2 separate regions of the Homo sapiens genome follow, and region 2 is linked to region 1. Evidence: fine-mapped expression QTL. A gene starts in region 1. The other region holds a variant in brackets. All regions are shown on one strand. Distances are between the middles of the regions.

The links. PIP is the estimated chance that this variant, and not a neighbour inherited with it, causes the effect. A credible set is the group of variants that fine-mapping cannot tell apart.
Region 2: its variant is the best candidate, but not a certain one, in a credible set for the expression of SYT1 in T cells (TOPMed, PIP 0.51).

Annotation. Positions count from the first base shown.
Region 1 is chr12:78,858,870-78,868,876 of GRCh38, forward strand. SYT1 (synaptotagmin 1) reads left to right here and starts at 5,905. Exons shown (of 11, transcript NM_005639.3): 1 at 5,905-6,240. RefSeq lists a silencer at 4,689-4,748.
Region 2 is chr12:78,626,078-78,636,084 of GRCh38, forward strand. No RefSeq gene overlaps it. Among named protein-coding and RNA genes, the nearest start is that of SYT1, 230 kb to the right of the region's middle. The variant T/G (reference allele first, on the strand shown) is at 4,411.

The DNA.
Region 1 (10,007 bases):
AGAAAACCTGGTGTCCTTACCCTTTTTATTAGTTCAATGTCCAATAAATGAACCTTCCTTTAGGAGTCCACCAATTTATGGTGCTTTATTTAGTATTAGGTGAACTAGGAACAAGTAGTACAGATTGCATAAAATATTGAAGCAAACCCATATGGTCCGCTCTGCAAAAAGCCATCCAGAAGTGTCCCGGAAAGGATCAAATGTATTTTTCAGCCCTTATCAGAACACTAAGAACCACTGCAGAATCAAATTTCAAAGTAGAGGTTTTGATTGTCTACCATCCTTCTCTTCACAATTGTATTATTAAAATAGTTTTATTTTGTTGAAAACACAGACTCTTCTCCCACTCACACTCAACCCTCTATGGCTTTTGGTAACTCGATTAGTCTCTCTGGACACACTTTTCAAATAAGTTGAATGAAGCAGCTGAACTATAATTCTCTGTGTGTTCAATTAGATAGAAATCCTTCCTCTGATTTCAAAGGGAATTAATGTAAACTTTAATGTTGCCCTTGCTTTATTAGCAAACTAGTTTTCACCACGGTATATTCCTTTTATCATAGAGTATTTGAAACATATATCATTTGTTTCCTTTCTAAGACCTTTAGCTAACATTAGCTCAAACTACTTTTATTTTGCCCCTGAGATAGATTCACCTAAATGATATTTTCCTTGCTAACCTCAACAGCCTGACACAGTATATTACTTTTTGAGTAACTGTCCTCCTTTTCATTTCCAATACTTTCTTAGCCACATCTTTAAGAAAAGGCTTTTGTAAAGCCACATAGAAAACTACTAGCTCTTTGTTTTCCTTTCTTTGGAAATTGTGAAGTTTCATCGTTCAATTATGGGGCTCTAACTCTCTGCTCCAGAGACTTGACTCCCATCAGTATTCATTTTTTTTCTTCTCCCATTTCTAGAGTCTCTTTATTAAATTCCATGGATGTTCAGTATAAAAATCAACACAGCTAATTTCTAATCTAATTCTGATACAAGGAGCCTTCATGTTTTTTCTTTACCAATTGGTTACAAAATCACTAGCAGTAATCCCAGGACAAATGATCTTGAGAAAGATGAATGGAAGAGAAATAAAAATGATGGCTCTACTGTCTTCAAGAGCATTTTCTAGAAAACAAAACAAAACAAAACAAAATAGTGTTCATCATTTTTTTTTTTGCCACCAGAATTGGATATTTCTTAATTTGAAAGAATAATATAAACAAATGTTTTTATGAAAAAAAAGCTTAAGTATCCATCCCTAAAAACTAAATTATTCATCTCGTAGATGATTACAGTGTAAGACTACTACATGCAAGACAGATGACTGTTGTCATTTTACGTATTAAAAAAGTTCTGTATCCAGGCGCGGTGACTCATACGTGTAATCTCAGCACTTTGGGAGGTCAAGGTGGAAGGATCACTTGAGCCCAGGAGTTCAAGACCAGCCTGGGCAATATGGCAAAAAAAAAAAAAAAAAAAGAAAGAAAGAAAAAAAAAATTAGCCCAACATTGTGGCATGCACCTGTAGTCCCAGCTACTAAAGAGACTAAGCTGAGAGAATCACCTGAGCCTAGGAATTGGAGGATGCAGTGAGCCATGATTGAGTCACTGCGCTCTAGCATGGGCTACAGAGTTAGACACTGACTCCTCCCATCAAAAAATAAATAAAAGTTCTTATAACATGAATTAACACCCTTCTACCTTTAATGCTCATAGGTGAGGAGTCTATGGCTCACTATTGGCTTAAATGGATGAGATGATGGGAGGAAACCCAATAACCCAGAAATCTGGAAAAAAAAAATAGTAGTAGCAGAAGTAGCAGCAATGATAATGATAAAATGATAATAATAGTCATTAAGTTCTTGCTATGTGCTTGGAACTAGCACTTTATGTGCACTGCTTTTTTTAATCCAGAAAAAAAACCTAATGATAAATGTTGTATTCTTATGTACATATTTTAGATGACAAAACTGAGACTTGGAGGGGTTTTGTACATTTTTCAAGGTGGCATAGCCAATTAGTGGTGAAGCTGGAATTCTACCCAAATTCTGACACCAGAAAACATTTAATTAATTATCTGTCCTGCAAAGAGACCAAAAAGTCAGTATCTTGAGAAACACAGATATAAAGTGAAAAGAATAGTAAGATCTGCATCTATATAAAAAATAAACAAAAAAATAGAAAAATTTAGAGAAGTCAATTATTTTTCTTTTTTAAAGAAACAATCCTGGGTAATGATATTTATAAATAGCTTTTACCAGACAACTACTGTGGCTACTAAAGATATAAAGTTTAATGATGTATGAGTCTTAATTAAATGTAACTCTTTTTTTATTATTTATTTATTTTGAGACAGTCTCGCACTTGTCACCCTGGCTGAAGTGCAGTGGCGGGATCTCGGCTCACTGCAAGCTCCGCCTCTCGGGTTCACGCCATTCTCCTGCCTCAGCCTCCTGAGTAGCTGGGACTACAGGCGCCCGCCACCACGACGGGCTAATTTTTTGTATTTTTAGTAGAGACGGGGTTTCACTGTGTTAGCCAGATGGTCTCCATCTCCTGACCTCGTGATCCGCCCACCTCGGCCTCCCAAAGTGCTGGGATTACAGGCGTGAGCCACCGCGCCCAGCCGGATTAAATGTAACTCTTTAGTATCATTGATCAACCAGGTAATTCTGGCCTTTCCAACAACCTGCAGAATTTTCTTGATACCTCTCTCACGTTAAGTATTCTTTCTGTGGTTTACAGAAACCTTGGCTAAGTTTCCACTTAATGAATTTCTAGTTCTAATGTCCCTAATTCCCACTCTTGCCATAAGACACACTTTCCTCCTCAGTGCCCCAATCCAATTTAGTTTCTATTCTGATCCTGTAGCCTAAAATAGATGGCAAAGGAAGCATGAAAGTAGTAAATAGATGAATCCAATAAAAAAGGAATAAAGAAAATATTGAAAATGAGATCTTGATCAGAGCAAAATGTGAAGAAAAATTAATAACACTTTTTTAACGAAGAAAGAGGAAACAAAACATTAAACAGATTTTGTAAAAGTTCTGAAAATAATATTTTTAAAATACCATACAATCAGGGGATAAGTTAATTCTCAACAGCAAAAGTACTCTAGATGTAAAAGTACTTAAGAAATGGAATGATAAGAGTGACAAAGAGCTCTCTCTTTGTCTCTACAGAACAATTGACCCGATCTTCCTTTTAATAAAAATGAGTCTGCTTCAATAGGCAAAGAGATGATACACACTTGCGGCAAAGTATAATGTTGTGTCAGCCCAGTAGATCCAGGAGGACGTCTTCAACACATTCCCAAGAGCTTGGAGAGAATTTAGGAATAGGAGGGAGAGTTAAAATCTTAGTATAGCTACAGTCACCATATAAATAGAGTCTTCTTATTATTTATGTACAGAAAATGTTATCAATTCTAAAGTTAAGCACAATATACATGTAAAGCCCATTTCTTATTTTAACCTGCAGTCTCCCTCAAGGAACATTGGGTTACAAACTTCTGATACCATTCATGTTGCCAAGGATTCTGGCCACTGAAATAGAAAGATTGCTAGGTAAGATGTGAAGTAAACAGGAAAAGAAATTGACTAAAATATTAATGACAAAATCAGTGTCTGGAGCAAAAATTTTAAAATCTGTATTTGTATTCTATTGACTAATTTATTCTAAAATAAGCATACTTTTTTTCTACATGCAGCTATTGGTAAATAGGATAAATGTGCCAGTTTTAATCACTGGAATCTAGAAAGTATGCTAGGCATATATTTAGAATAAAGATCTATATTAAGTGGATATTATAATAATCTTCTCATCCAAAGATATTTATTGGACAACAAAATTACAGGGTTACTTAATTCTTCTTCGTCTTCTCTTCCTCCTTCTTCTCCTTTTCCTCCACCTCACCATCCTCCTTCTCCTCCCCTTCCTCCTCCTCCAACTTCTTCTACTTTTTATCCTGTCGTTTTTCTTCCTTCTCTGTCTTCTCCTCCTCCTCTCCTTCACTAAATAACTGAAATAAAATTTAGACCAAATTCTTTTATCTTATTTCTCCAACTATGAAATGATTTTAAAATAAGGTTTGGAGACTATTTTGGAAAATGGAAAGTGAATATTTACATGAAGTCACAAGTCTGGGGTGCATTATTTTCACACTTCTACCTCTAATGTTAAACTTCCTATTATTCAAGCATAGCCCAAATACAAGTGTTTGTCACTTAGAAGGATATATTTATATCACGTTGCCTTCTTTTCCCGTATACTTAGAATAAGGATCTTAATCTTAAACATTACATAAGTAGAAGAGATTTAATTAAAAACTTGAAGAAATGTGTTACTGTTAATTGAATTCTTGCTACATTTACCTTTGCACACCAATGTTAATAAAACTCCAGTTCAAAGTGGATGGGTTTGGGGAATTGAGATAGCTATTTATTTCCCTACCTGAGATGCCAAGATAATCTTCTCAGTAAAATAAAGAACCCAATTAGGAGAGTTCTCATTTGTAGCTATTGATCAAGTTTACACAAAATGCTAGGATTTCTAAATAAAACAAATAAGAGGTTCAAAGGCCTTTAAACGAGGTTGAGGGAGGGAGAAAGGGAAATAGTTCTCTCCGTTTTGAAATCCTTTCACCTGTGGAGCAGATAATGGACGGGCCCCTCTCCCAGCTGGGCTCCGCTCCCGCCCCTAGCCTGGCGCGCGGTCCCTTCCCCCACCCGCTGAGCCTTCCTGTTCGGTATTTCGGTATTACCAAGCTATAAATTGCCTGAGAGCTTAGAGACAATCAGGTCACCACCGCCCTCACAAGAGAAAAGCTTCTTACTTCCGAGCAGAACGGTTCAGCTGGGAAGAGAGGAAGCAGGGAGAGAATCTATGCTTTAGTCGTCACTGCTCTGGCAAGGGGTCGAGAGAGATGGGGGAGGGAGGTGGCAAAAAATAAAAATGAAAAAATAAAAAAGCATCTCCAACAATGTTGCACTTGACCCAAGTGTACAAACTTATTGGTCGCTGCAATGGAAACTCCCAGTGCACTCTCCACGGCCTGGCAGCCGCCGCTGATGGGTGGAGTCGCGCTCCCGGCCCCACCTATGGGACGGAGCTGCTTCTCCCGCATCTCGGCTCCACCGCACCCTTCGCGGGAAGTCCCCAGGCTTCCAGCAAAGCTCAGCTTATCCCGCCCCCGCTTCCAACCCGGAACCCCAGAAGAACAGCATGATGAGCCTCCGGCAGCCAGGTGGGCCACCTCCCCGCGGCTCAGTTTGAGGACACTTGTGCGGAACCCTTTCACATCCCCACCCTACCCAGCTTTCACAACTCCGCCGGGTTAAATGGCCAAAGACAAACTTCTACCTCTCCTGTCCCCGGTCCCAGCTTTTCAAAAACCCACAGCTGGCGAACCCACACACATCGAAACTCCTAGGTCGCTGTTGCAGTCTGGGCATGCTCAGTATCAGGGTAGGTTTTGATTGAGAGTAAAAAAAAAAAAAAAAAAGCTTTGTATTATGCTCTCTTTCTCCTGTGCATACTGCTTGCTGAACAGCTTGTGGGGCATTCCTGAGTCTACCTAGAGGTTTTATCAGACGCCCTTGATTGTGTCTCCTTGGGATCTGTTCCCCTCTTACTTCACCCCCTCCCCCAACCCGCCTCCACCCCGCTTCCCAGGTCCCTGTCCGCTGTGGGGATGGAGAGACACTAACAGAACTGGGATGGGCGATGTTGGCTGAACGGATCCACCTATTATTAGTGCGCGGGGATTGGCTCCTTGGCGCAGCGTACCCGAGGTGGAGCCAATCAGGATGCTGGGGCTCGGAGATGATGGGCGGCCGCCTCCTCACTGGAGGGATTCCTGGAGAAGCTGCAGTGTGGGGATGCTCTAGACCGAGTACTGCCCCCAGTGTCTTTCCACCTCCTCCTGCAGCAGCGGCAGCGGCAGCAGCAGTTAGCAGCGGCAACTTGAGGCTGCACCCCGGGCAAGTCCCCAGGGTGGTGCTCAGCCGAGAGGGGGGCTTGGCGCCCCGAAGGGGTGTGTGTAGGGTGGGGGCGACCACGTGGGACCAGCTGGTGGCCCTGGAAAACCTCCCACACACCCACACCCACACACCCCTTTTGTGTTGCAGGCTGCCCCTCCAAGAGCGGAGGCAGCGAGAGTACGCGTGTGCCTCGCGCCGGTCCACGCGGGGAGAGCACTGGGGACCGAGACCCGGCACCACCTCCCGGTCCGCCCTCCAGGTAAGGAAGCGGGACTGGCGGCGCGGCCACCTCGGCGGTGCCTATCTGCTCGAATCCATCCCAAAGATTTTCTTCTCGATACACTTGGGTTTTAGTGGTGGGAGTCTGAGACCTAGGGAGGGATCCCCGGGTGGCCTATTGTGAGAAATATGAGACTACATGTGCATCTCCTGGAAAAGCACTTTGCACAGCGCCCGTGATTTAGAGCCTGGAGTTGATGTTGGGCATCCCCCATCTTCTTGCTTCCTCTTTCCTTCTCTTGTTCTCTCTCCTCCGTCCCCCACCCCCAATCTCAATCTTTTCTCTCTTTCTCTCCCACACCTCCCCTCTCGCCCTCCTCCCACCCTAAGCACGCACAGCGTTTCTTTCTCCTCCTGGAGAGGATTGCCTTTCTTAGAGGAAAGAGGGGGAGTGAAGAAAGGAGAAAGATTTCTTTCTGTTGGGGAGAGGGATATGGGGGGGGGGGGGAACGTAAACAAGATAGAATACAAGCTCTGCGAAAATCAGAGCACATAAAGCAATTAAACTGAATAAGGGGAGTAGACAACCAGTCCAGCTTGGGCTGTCAGAGAGAGGAAGCGTCAAGTTTGACTTGATTTCCTCCTTGCAAGAGTCTATGTCTCTCACTTGATTCGTTCAAATGGAACAAAAATAAACCGACAATCCAACCCACTTTCAACTGCTTAATTGCTTTTGCTTTTGAGTGCCAACCATCTGACTTTTCCTGTTTCCATCTGTCCTGTGGGGCTAACAATTTGGTATTGCACATCAGTGTTAATATCTGAACTTTGAAAGCTTTCTTGAGTAACAAAAAAAAAAAAACAATTAAAATAGATTATTACTTTCCTGAGGTTTCTTGGTATGGCCTGTTGTTGGGGGATCAAAAAATGTAAAGTTTCAAAACATTTGCAAGGGACAACAATTTTATAGGGAGGCTTGGATTTCTACTTTGAGAAAGCTAATCTTCTAGTTAGCTTTGTGTACATGTTGATATTCACTTTCTCCAGTATTAACCCTTTCGTGAAATAAAGCAACTGTTTAACTTTTGTATGGAAGCTACATTTGTGTAGAATTTTCACTTTATTCTACCTTTGTACTATTTGCATTTTATTGTCTGGATACCAAACTTATGCCTGGCTTTATTTTCTTTTAATAGGACAATATTTAATGGATGTAAACATGATGTTTATACAATTTCAGCACTCCCTTTAGAAGGCACATGGAGGCTCAGTTGGACAAGAATCCTCCTGTACTGGAACTAAGTTTAGAAAGTAATGCTAGAAAGATACCCTAAATTTTAAAAATCCTGAAGGGGAAAACATTTTTGTAACGTCTTGTTAAAAGAAAGAAAAATATATCAAAACACCAACATGCCCCTGGCTGCCTGCATAATAGGTCAAGTAAATGGTACTTGTTGGACAGAGCCTTTACAGCAGCTTCAGCAGTCTCTAATTCCATCATTGGGGATATAAGCTTTCTTTTCTTATTATTCTTCAGGGACAGCTAAGCGATAGTACTGTCAGATGGAAGGAGGTATAGAGAAATGCCTCGTTTGATGTAATAGGAAAGCATTCCAAGTGGGTCTTACCTGAACACAGAGAAATCCACAGATGTTAGTATACAAAACACTTCTTTTTATTTATCAGGGGAAATGCAGAGTCTTACTTTTTTTTGTCTAGAACTCCACTTGATATAAGAAAAGAGAATCTTCTATCTTAACTGTGTCTGACCTTCCACACTAATTTTGTATCTCAGAGAGTATTTTTTCACTACGTACGTTTAATATATAAGTTTACACACCAACTTAGAGAAGAGCTGAATTCATTTGCCATCAGTGTAATGTGTACTATTTTCCAAACCATTTTGCATTTGAGGCAATGATCTCTCCCTAAATAGAATTACCAAGTCACGAAAAACGATTTTCTTTCTAGGGCTTTGACATTTAAATGAAAAAAAAAAAAAAATAGTGTCTCTGTTGAAAGCTAACTCTGGTTTTTAGAGGTGCCACCTTTTGGTTACAAGGACAAAGGGACAATCACTTAATTACCTCACATGTATGTACAACTGAATTAACAAGTTTAGACATGAAAAGATGTACAAAAAGGAAGCCAGCTGCCTTCATGTGAGAAAATTAAGATTTTGTTTTCTCATTTCTCCACTGTCTTAGGAATATGTGAAAATTTAGGCTTGGTTTGTGACATTTATTTTCATGACTCTTTACAAATGTTAATTATAGAAATAACATCTAAAAATATGGATATGAGTAGTTTTTCAAATACTTCTAAAAAATTCAATATCTGTGTATTGGAAATCAGAACTAATTCCAATATATAGTGAGTGGATTGGGGAGAGACCTTACATGATATATTATAGGAAATTCTTACTTTGTTATCCCACAAAATAGTCTAATGTCACAATTTCATACAATCTTTGTTTTTTCTCCCTTTGACAGGATATTTTAGTAAATCTCATTAATGTTTCAGAGTAAATATGATAATTATGCCTCGAGGTATTTTTGTCAGAATTGAAGACTGCTAATATATAGGGAAAATCCTAAAATACTAATTTCACAAAAATACCACATGATTGAGAGTTGTTGCTGAGTAGTTTTGAACTTCATTTCATAATGGAGAATATTAGTTATTTCATCTGGTCAAATTATCAGATAGTTCTAATCAACAAATATGAAAATGAATAACATTGTATTTATACGATTTGCATATTAGACTGAAATTGAAACTAAAAAATAGTATTAATTATATGCTTGTATTAATTATATGCAAGATGAGCTGGAAGATTAATAAAATAAAATGTAGAATATGTTAGAAATCTGAAAGTTAATTTGAACTTCCTGTTAGCCTAATAACACCATTAACATAATATCAGTTCATCACTTTTGATGTCAGTATATTAAGTTGATTTTGAGAAAATTCCCAAAACAGTTAGAGCCATCTAATCTTAAAGAACACACACTTAATGCAGACAATTATACGAGCCTGAAATATAGTTCTTATGATTTCCAGTTTGTGCAACAACCAAGAAGAGCTATCACTAATTCCAAATTGAAACATAATATTTATTTTCCTAATGGTAATAATTAAGTAATTTGGGGGGAACAAGAAATAAAAACAGTTTGATTATATAATGGAACAAATCTTTGTCTAATATTACCAAAAACCCATACCAAAGTTAGACTTTCTGCCATTGTGTAATGTAGGTATGCGTCTTGCATGCATTCTGCAGAAAATATAATATTTTTAAAAAGTAAATATCTGATGTAGTTGTGATATTTTAAAATTCTTAAATAATTTATTTATCATAAATATATCTGTACCAAAAGTTCAATACATGACGTGGCTGATTTTAGCTGAAATTTTTTCACTGAAATTGACCAAAGCCATTTAAAAAGAGACAAAGTATATGGCAATATACATAATAATTTCAGCTAGAATTTAAGGATATGTGTGTGTATATACATATGCATATATTTGTGTGTATATATATTCCGAAATTATCTAAATTTTTCAAAAAGGTTTAGAAACTCATGGACAGTAGACTATAATTTGCTGAAACTAGGGGCTATTCATGTACAAAGTACCATTTAAAGAAAGATGACGGTGTCTTAGGAATGCTTTTAAGGGTTCTTTGGTTGAAAGTCTGGGAATACTCAGAGATAATATTAATGAGAGCCTAGAGTTTTTTTCTTTTAAAATGGGGTTCCATGGCTTTGGGCAGAAATGATTTTTATATGTATCATGATTGAAAAA
Region 2 (10,007 bases), 230 kb before region 1:
ATATTATATAATACGTATTATATATAATACGTATTATATATAATATATTATATAATACGTATTATATATTATATAATATATAATACATATATATACACACACCCATATATATGAGAGAGAGAGAGATTTAGGTATTGGCTCACGTAATTATGGTGACTGGCACGTCTAAAATCTGCAGGGCGGACTAGAGTTCCCGTATTGTGGAGGACAATCTGCTGTATTTAAAGTTTACCAATCTCACCCAAAAAACAGTCTCATAGAAACATCCAGAACAATGTTTGACCAAAATCTATGGCTCTACCAAGTTGACATATACAATGAAGTATAACAGAAGTTAAAAGTTTTCTACTTTTCCTTACTTTAAGCCTCATTAAAATTTAAGGAGGTAACTATGTCCAGGACTCATCTTTTGAATTTATATTACTTAAATACAGACTCATAAATTAAAGCCCCTCCACCACTGCCACACCATTATAGTCACCATATACCCTAACTGGTTCTATAGTATTTACTACTGTGTTCCTAATTATGGTTTATGAACAAATATACATTGAGTGCTTAGAAGGTACCATGAACTGTTCCAGGTGCTGGCCATAAGAGCTGGTTTTTCTAGAACTATGTTCTACTGGGGACCATAGGCAATAATAAATAAATAAGTGAACATAAGTCAAAGTCATAATAACTAGTATAAAGAAAAATAAAGCAGCTTATTGAGAGAGAGCATAGCAGCAAGAATTATACTAAATAGTGTGGTCAGAGAAGCCTCTCCATGGATGCAATGCTTCTGTTTCAGCAAGAACTTAAAGTAGTGTTGGGTCAAACTAGGCAGATATCTGGGGCAAATGTGTTCTATTGAGAAGGACTAGCAATTGAAAAATCCTGAAGTCGTGCTGCCTTTTTGTGTTCACATAATAGCAGGGGCCAATGTGGCCAGAGCAGAGTAAAAGATGGAGTTAAGAAATGAGGCCACGAGGAGCCAGGAGCAGGTTGTCACTGTAGCATTTCAGGGACCCAAGCTATGTATTTAAGTCCGATGCTATGGTGATTTTATTAGAGAAAAGAGAGAAAAGGAATTTTGAATCTTATTTTATAGGACACAATTTTCAAGTGTAAATGTCTATCTGGGTTAGACAGATAAAGAAAATGTATGAGGCATGTTGGTAGAAATGGGTGACCTGGAATGTTAAGACCTTCTAAAAACTGAATTTCAAGTCTATGCTACAGCTAGGTATAATTACACAGAGAATTCAGACTACAAGTTGTGAATTTGCGACTTCTGATAAAATGCTGTATAGATCATTATGTGAATTAGGGAAGGAAGTGTGTATTTTTAAAATCTGTTCTCTTTACTGAGCACTACAGAAGAAGTTTTCACATATGTTATCTCACTAAATCCTCAAGATAAAACTATATCATAGGTACTTTTCAAAGAAGAACATAGCCAGGTCAGAGGTACATCCTAACTAATCAGCGGCAGCCATGGGGATAAATTGAAGCTCTTGATTGACACTTGCTGTGCCACATAGTTAAGTCAATGAAATGGTATGTTTAAATGAGCCTCATCCATTTTTGTCAGAGCCACCACAATTTGATAGATATCAGCTACCAGACTTATTGAGATAGATTATTATGTATAACTTTCAAAAATATTTTTCAAGAACTAGTAGAATACTATTAAACTCCTCACATACACCAAGGGTATAAAGTGATTGAGGGTAAGGAGGTTATTTTGGAAAGAGGATGTCTTTCTTGTGAACTGTGCTGTGAGCCCTACTCCCTGAAGAAAAAAGGGTAGGGCCATTAGCCTCTCACCAAAAGCCTAGGAAGAAAGAATGGCTTTCTTCTAGGAAGAAAGAATTAACTCAAGAAACATTTGTCTCCTGAATCTCATTTGGAAAATCTCAAAAGCTAGAGATGCCTTAAATGATGGCAGAGGTGAAGTAGAAGTTGCTGCTGCCATTATGTTGTGGAAAATAATGAATAGACCAATTGTAGCCATATGAATGAGCACAGTGGCATGGGTTGTATTTGATCCTGTACAAAAAGGAAGATGTGAAACTCAGCATTGTAGAGATCTACTGACTATACTACAAAACACTAAAAAATGAGCTGATGGGATATCGTTTGCATCAAAAGAAATGCAGATGAGATGGCCCCAGCAAAGGGGAATTTCCTGAAGAAGATGCAAAAGTTTTCCATATGTGTCAGTTTAAATATTGTCCAGCCTAACAGAACTTGAAGCCAGCTTATGACATTAGAGCCAAATAACATAACTACCCCTCATAACTCCCCGCTTTTTGAGGACAGACTTCCCCCATGACAATAATGTTAATGTGGAGAACACAAGACTAAATGTTTATTATCAACAATAAATTCAAAAAGTGTTAGTAGCCATCAAATCATTTTTTATCAAATCAGTATAATTAAACTATTTTATAAATAACTTGTCTTCACCTAAAAGTAAAAATCTTCCCAAACTCTTGCACAGGCTTTCCCTAAGCCAGAAGTTGGCAAACATTTTCTGCAAAGGACTAAATAGTAAATATTTTACACTTTGCATGCCAGGTGGTCTCTGTCACAACTATCCAATTCAGCCACTGTAATGTGAAAGCTTCAATAGACAATACATAAATGAATGAGAGTGGCTGTGTTTCAAAAAGCCTTTATTTACAAAAACAAGCAGTAGGCTAGATTTTTCTCATGAGCCACCATTTGGCAATGCTTGCCCTAAGCGGTAGAAGCAATCATATTCCTCAGTTTTATGTGTGTATTCTTCTTATAATATATTTGAAATAGTGAGGAGCCCAATTGCTGAGTCAACTAAAAGTTGTAGCTGCTTACTTTAGCATTAACTACAACCTTAACATTACTTGGCTAACTGATGATTTGTTTGTTCTATTATTTCAATAGTAATAGATAATTTTGGGGTAATTTACTTTGCCCTTTCCTTATAATATTTTGGTTGACCTGTATTGTTTCCTTTGATTTCATTTGTATGACTTTTTTCTACTAACTCAACTTGATATTTTTCCCTCTACCACTAAAATAGATGTCCATTTGAATTAACGCTATACCTCTAAATCAACATACTTTTAGATTTCTTACATGAAATATACTGGTAGAATAATTGATAGTCAAATATAATACTCCAAGCATCTTTATGATTTGTTAAGTAGGTTAAGGGCTGAAAAGGGTCACTCTGTCCAGTAAAATTTTTTCATGCCTGAAGATGGGAAGTTTTTACTTCCACCTCTTTGTCACATTGGCTAGACTGTCTAAAATCAAGGAAATAAAAAATAGTTATACTAGTGGTCTTTAAAAAAATAAGCAAATGAAACCAGTTTAATTCTTATCATTTGCAACATTGCCAATCTTACTTTTATTAGTTTATTAGGTGTTAGGTACAGAATCCAATTAGGCATTTGATTAACTAATATTGAAGATGTTACTTAAGGTAGATTTACTATACAACTTGGTGGATGTAAGAGTAAAATCATCTCAGAAGTACATCAAGCAGACAAATGCAATTAGAAAATCAATCATTAACAGAGCATATAAGCAAATTATTGGAGAGGAAGATTATTTCCTAAGAAAGTAAATTTATAATATTCTGGTAACTTATCCTTGATTCTAGAGAGATCAAAATAGATAATAAAGAAAACATAATGAATTAATAAATTATTTGTTTATTTGTTTGTTCAAAGGGAGGAACCTATCAGCTTGGAAGCATGGTAGATTTGCTATTATTGTATTGTTGTTATTAACATTTGTATTACATAAAAAATAAATTATTGATAAAATTATTCAATACAAAATTAAAAGTTGTAGATACCACAAAGAAAAAAATTTGTATTACAGTAAAAATGTTTTTATTTTATTCTCATAAATAAATGTTAGGTCTAAAGCCCAGATTGAGAGAATTTTTAAAAGAGAGGTGTTTTTCCACCAGTATTATGGCAGGTTACTCTTCTAAAAAATATTTTTCCTTTATAAACTATTTAGAAATATAACAATCTTTCAGATACACAGTTGAGTTCATAGGAAAATAAGAGAAAAAATGCCCAGGGGGCAAAATCAAAGAAGAGTCAGGAAACCAGAGTGGTCATTTTGAACTGAACCTGCATCTGCCCCATGGGTCATTACAAATCTCAGAAATCTAGAACCTTGGCCTCTAAAGTTCACTCAGAGTCAAAATAAAAACAAAAACTAAACAAAAAAAAAGCACTGCACCTATGCAAGGAGAATAAAGCACTGAGGTCCCTGGGGCTCTTGAAAGACCAGAGTCACAGTGCAATGGAGGATTGAGAAACAAATCTATTTATTGCCTTAAATAAGCTGACAAGGAAAAAGTCTGTGTAATCTGCAACATGAAAAAAAAATTATCTGAATTAAAACCCATAGTACTACTCT[T/G]CTGCAAGCTTGAAGTTTGCATTTATATTACCTACTAAGTACATAAAATTAGAAAAATAAATAAATTATAGTGGTTACAATTTAGTAGCCCCCAGAGATGTGGCAGAAGTTAAAGGAAATCTTTTCTCAAGGGATATACCTACATGCCAGGTCTCAAAGAATTTACACAAAGTCCCATGAAACATGGATTCACAACCCAAAATTACAGAGAACATAAAGAAACAGCCCACTATGAAAGGAGTCATCAGAAACATCAGATAGTGTAATTAAACCTGCAAAAATATCATATAATTGGGAACATCAGAAAAAATATTAAACATAAATTAAATATAGACATAAAAAAGAAGAAACTATAAACATAAGCAGATGGATCTGAAAAGAACAAAAGAGAATTTGTAGTAATAAAATCTATAATTTTGGAAATTAAAATGTAATGAATACATAAAATGTGTGCGACCCAGCTGAAGATGAAATTAGTGAACTGGAAAATCAAAATGAAGAAATTACATAGAACATAAAAAAGCAAAGCAAAAAAAAAAAAAAAGGAACTTTACCTAACAATTATGAACACGTATTCCTCTCAAGTACACTTGGAACAATGCAGAACACTCTCTAAGAAGAATATAATAATTTAGAAAATAATACAAGCAATTTAAAAAGAACAACTGGAAATTTAAAAACACACTCTAAAGAATAAGTCTTATGACAGGAAATATTTTGAACTATACAATTATATATAGCAAAACTCTGAAAAATAACTAAAGTGAAAGAAAACACACACCTTAACCACTTGCATTGAATAAAATTGTGAGATAAACATTAAGCCAAAGCACTTAGAAACAGCCCAAGTTTGGGGGCGCACACCCATAATCCCAGCACTTTGGGAAGCCAAGGTGGGAGGATAACTTGAGGTCATAAGGTGGAGACCAAACTGGGCAACATAGTGAGACCCTGTCTCTACAAAAATTTTAAAAATTTAAGAAATTGGCTGCATGGTGATACACCTGTAGCCTTTGGTGTGCAGGAGGCTGATGTGGGAGGAGCCCTTGACCCTAAGATTAAAGACTGCAGTGAGCTATGAAATAAATCCAAATAAAATGGAAGAACTGGAAAAATGAAGATAAAAGCAGATATTAGAAATAAAACCATAACTTTATTTTTTTATAAAGACTACCATAATAAATGAATTTTGACAATGATCAAGAAAAAAAGACATGAGTAAATGTTGCTCAAAAGGAAAAAGAAAATATAATAGACGAGCTTCTTACCTTGCACTACACACATACACACCGACACACATGTATCAAAATTACAGATTGATTAAAATATTAATAAAAACAAAATTTACAGAAAAATTGTACAATGGCTTTTGTTAGGAAAGGATTTCTTAAGATACAAGAACCAGTAACCACGAAAGAAAGATAGGTACATTTTGCTGCACAAGGATTAAAAATTTCTATTTATAAAATGTGACAATAACAAGGCAGACAGAGAAAAAAAAATGTTGCAACAGATCCTACATTGAATTTTACATTCCAGGTACATTGGATGATGTTCAATGTAATGGACAAAGATTTAGTGCATAGACTTTATAAACACTATCTCCAAATTAATAAGAAAAATATAAAAATGCAGTGGAATTTGAGCAAAAAAGTGAAAGACACTGCCCCCAAACCCAAAAATATGAAAAGATTAATTTCACTAATAACAAAGAAGATCCAAGTTAAAACCACAGTAATGTATAGTTTTATACTGGATTTGTTGAAAAAAAGTTTCATCATTCAAAAGCATGGATACATTAAAATTACATTGCTGACAGGAATATATTTGGTATATCCTCCTTAGAGAGAAAATTGACTGTACACTCTCTGGTAAATAAAAAGTGCATATGGCCTATGAAATCACACTTTTAGGTTTGTAGTTTGGAGAGACTCTTGAACAAGGTGAGATGCATAGTTGTAATTTTATAATAGTCATTATAAATTATACCATATTTGGCTGGGAATAATGGCTCACACCTGTATCCCAGCACTTTAGGAGGCCTAGGTGAGAGGATTGCTTGAGCCCAGGGGCTTGAGACTTGGGCAACATAGTGAGACCTTGTCTCTACGAAAAAATAAAAAAATGATGGAGGAGGATTGCTTGAGCTCAGGAAGATTAGACTGCAATGAGCCATGATTGTACCACAGCACTCCCTCCTGGGTGACAGAGCGAGACCCTGCTTCAAAAAAGAAAAATATACCATATTTACATAATAAAATACCATATAGGAGTGCAACTAAATGACCTATAATCATTGATGAATTTCACAAATGATATTAAGTAAAAACATTATTGTTTAGGGATATAAATAAAGTGCCAAAGAATTACACATAAAAAGTTAGGTTGGTGCTTTCTTCTGTGGAATAAAGTATAAATAAGAGAGTATTACACAGAGACCTTCAACTCTATAAACTGGCTAATGCATTCACCATATTTATATATTTCCCCTTGTCTGAAAATTTTTGGAATAATAGATACAAAAGAAAGAGAAAAGATCTGCTAAATGTTTTAATCTTCTTTTCATTAGTGTTATAAGACCTACCAGTATACCATTATCTTTTTTCATCTCCAGAAAAACCCTGGCTGAATATCTTCTGGAGTAACTACCGCACTACATGAATGTTTAGTCTACATATTTCTATTTTGACCTTCTTATTCCTATATTGTTCCAGAATCACTATGCTTCTTGAGCAAATAGTGTGAAAGAGAAATGTGATGTTTGCCATACAGTAAAAACTAAAGAGCACCATCACTATCTTTCAATTATTTTCATAAGTTTCAAAGAGCATTTGGTATCAAGAATACATTTGGACTCACAGCTCTGCAAGCAGTTTGGCTTTTTAGAGAAATTTTTAAAGGTCCAAAAAAAAAAAAAACAGAATTAGTGGAGTCCTGTTAAATCATTCACTGTCATTAGGTGAATTACAGAATGTATGTATAGCACATCCTGCTTCCATTTAATTAATGGTTGTAAGTATATTCAGTGATATAAGCAAGAAACAAAACTTGGTTGCTTCAGGAACTTAGGAGATGTGATATAATTTCCTTGGAAAATATGTATATAGAAAATACAAGCAACTACAAACCATGAAAGTAAGAATAAGATGTATATAGGCTAAACCGAGGAATTTGGCACTAAAAAGGTACTAAATGTTGTTACATAGGTGTATGATTGATTATTACAAAAAACTGGAAGAAACAAACCTTAAACAAGCATTTTTGAGGTGCCACTAAAATTGTAGTAGGGAAGAAGTTATCTGTAGTGTATGACTCTTATGAGATGATAAAACCATTTATTTGAAGTACAACATTCAAAGGAATTATGAGATGTTTGTACAATAAGATTACATTTAAGTCCTGAATGAAATGAACGAGGTCAGGAAATGAGCCTAAGCAAAGAACATCTTAGACAAAGGAAATAATACAGTCTCCGAGCCAGAAGCACTCAGGGTGTGGAGATTCACTACACACAATAGCATCTTAAAGGCTCTGATAAGTCCATCTTTAAATAATCATTTAAAAATATACTTATCTCATCATTTTTCTAATTTGTTTGATTCCAAACTGTGTTTGTTATTTTAGAGTTGATTTTCCTTCATCACCTATTGTGTTATGCTAGACATTTCAGGTAAGTGTCTCAATCATTTTGCAAGGTTTTTTTTTTTCTTGGTAAGGTGAAACATAAATGCAAGTAAAATGCCAATGCGTAGAGTATTCCCTGGATCATTGTAGTAAATTCGTGTAAAGTAAATAAAATGCCAGATGTTATAGTTTCATTAGACCCAGGGGCACATTTTTTTTTAAATTTCCGCTGGTATTGTCATTACACTACTTGAATCAATCTTAACTGAGCTCAGACTCCCTCATACCAAATTGGTTTCTGCCTTCTACACCTCTGGCTCCATCATTTAAAAGTCTCTGCTAAAGTAATTTTATAGGTTTCATCTTGTTTCATCTTTGGTCAAAAATTGCTTCTGCATTGGATATAGAATCAAGTTGAAATTTTGTTATCTGATATTCAAAGTTCTTTTTCTAATTAGACTCCAATCTACTTTTCAAAATTATTATCTCCCACATTAGCCCCACTTGAAATTTTGTACACATTTCCTGTTCTCAGTGTTCTGCACCACCTAAAATAATATTCCCCTTCTCTAATATAAATTTAATCTATGCTATTTATATTTCAAAGCCTGTGCTCTATAAGGGCTTTTCAGTACTACCACATCTCACAATTATCTCCCTTCCCAATTTCAGTGACATTATTTGTCTATACCACTAATGTGAGACATTAATTTGTTTATTTTATAATTATCCTAGTTATGGAGATGAATGCATAAAAGTCATAGTTATATAAATACGGGCTTCTGAAAGGCAAGAATGATTTACATCTTTTATCTATTAGAACCAAAAGATTTATCAGCTTAATAAATACCTAACAAATATAGGTACAGAAATTGATAAAATGCCTACATATAAATTATAAATACACTGAAACTCACAAAGGTCTCCTTCACTGACAATCCATATATATTTTAAGGTTGCTTCAACTAAAATATTAAGTGAATGCTTTGCAAATTTGACTGTATCCAGGTTTATATCAGAAGGTGAGATTGAATAAGGCTTGATGCAGAATCTAAACTTCACATTTATCTGTATATTATGTTCACTTCTAAGGATATAGCACAAAGGGAACATTTTTTATTTAAAGTGAACTACAGCTGTGCTGTGAAGAGAGTTCTTTATAAAGACTGCAGGTTCTTATAACTTTGGTTTAAAATGCAATATGGGAAAATGTTGGATATTTGAGGCCTTGCTTAATATATTTCTACTGCAGTATCCTTTAAAAGCAAAAAAAAAATGCATTTATATGACAGTTTTCCTCTGTAAAGGTCCTTGCTTATATGATACAAGCACTCTGTTTTGTGCTTAAACTCTTCAGAGGGGTAGCATCAAAGTTCTTGGGGAAGGATTGTATATGTCCCTTCCCTAAAAGAATCCCTAGAAGAATGGTTGCTGATACGGCTACTGCTTCTACATCTTGAGTTTTTTAATTTGCTTTTATTAAAGCATTGATGCTGCTTGATTCAAGTCCTGTGCTTGGCCAGGTGTGTTAATTTCAATAAATGCTTTGTGAGTTTGGTTAAAATGAAAAACAAAATTATAAATACAATTAATGAATTTGCCAATATAATAGTGCTTATTCCATTGACACTCTTAGTCAATGTTTGGCTTGTTCCACAATACTTTCCTATTTTCTCCTCTTATTCCCCACATACTTTATAAAATATGCGTTGTATATATTTTCTCTCTCTTTCCCTACACACGCATATGTATAGTAGATATATATGTATGTAAACATACATACCTGTGTATATACGTAGATACGTATATACATGCATTTCCACATAAATACATACCACTATGGAAATTATCCCCAAATATAGATCTATCTGATTTTAAATACATATAATACAGTGTTAGTTTAGCAACATAAAGTCACATTTACTATTATTGCATATGTTATCACCAATTCTCATTTCTGAGAATTAAACCGA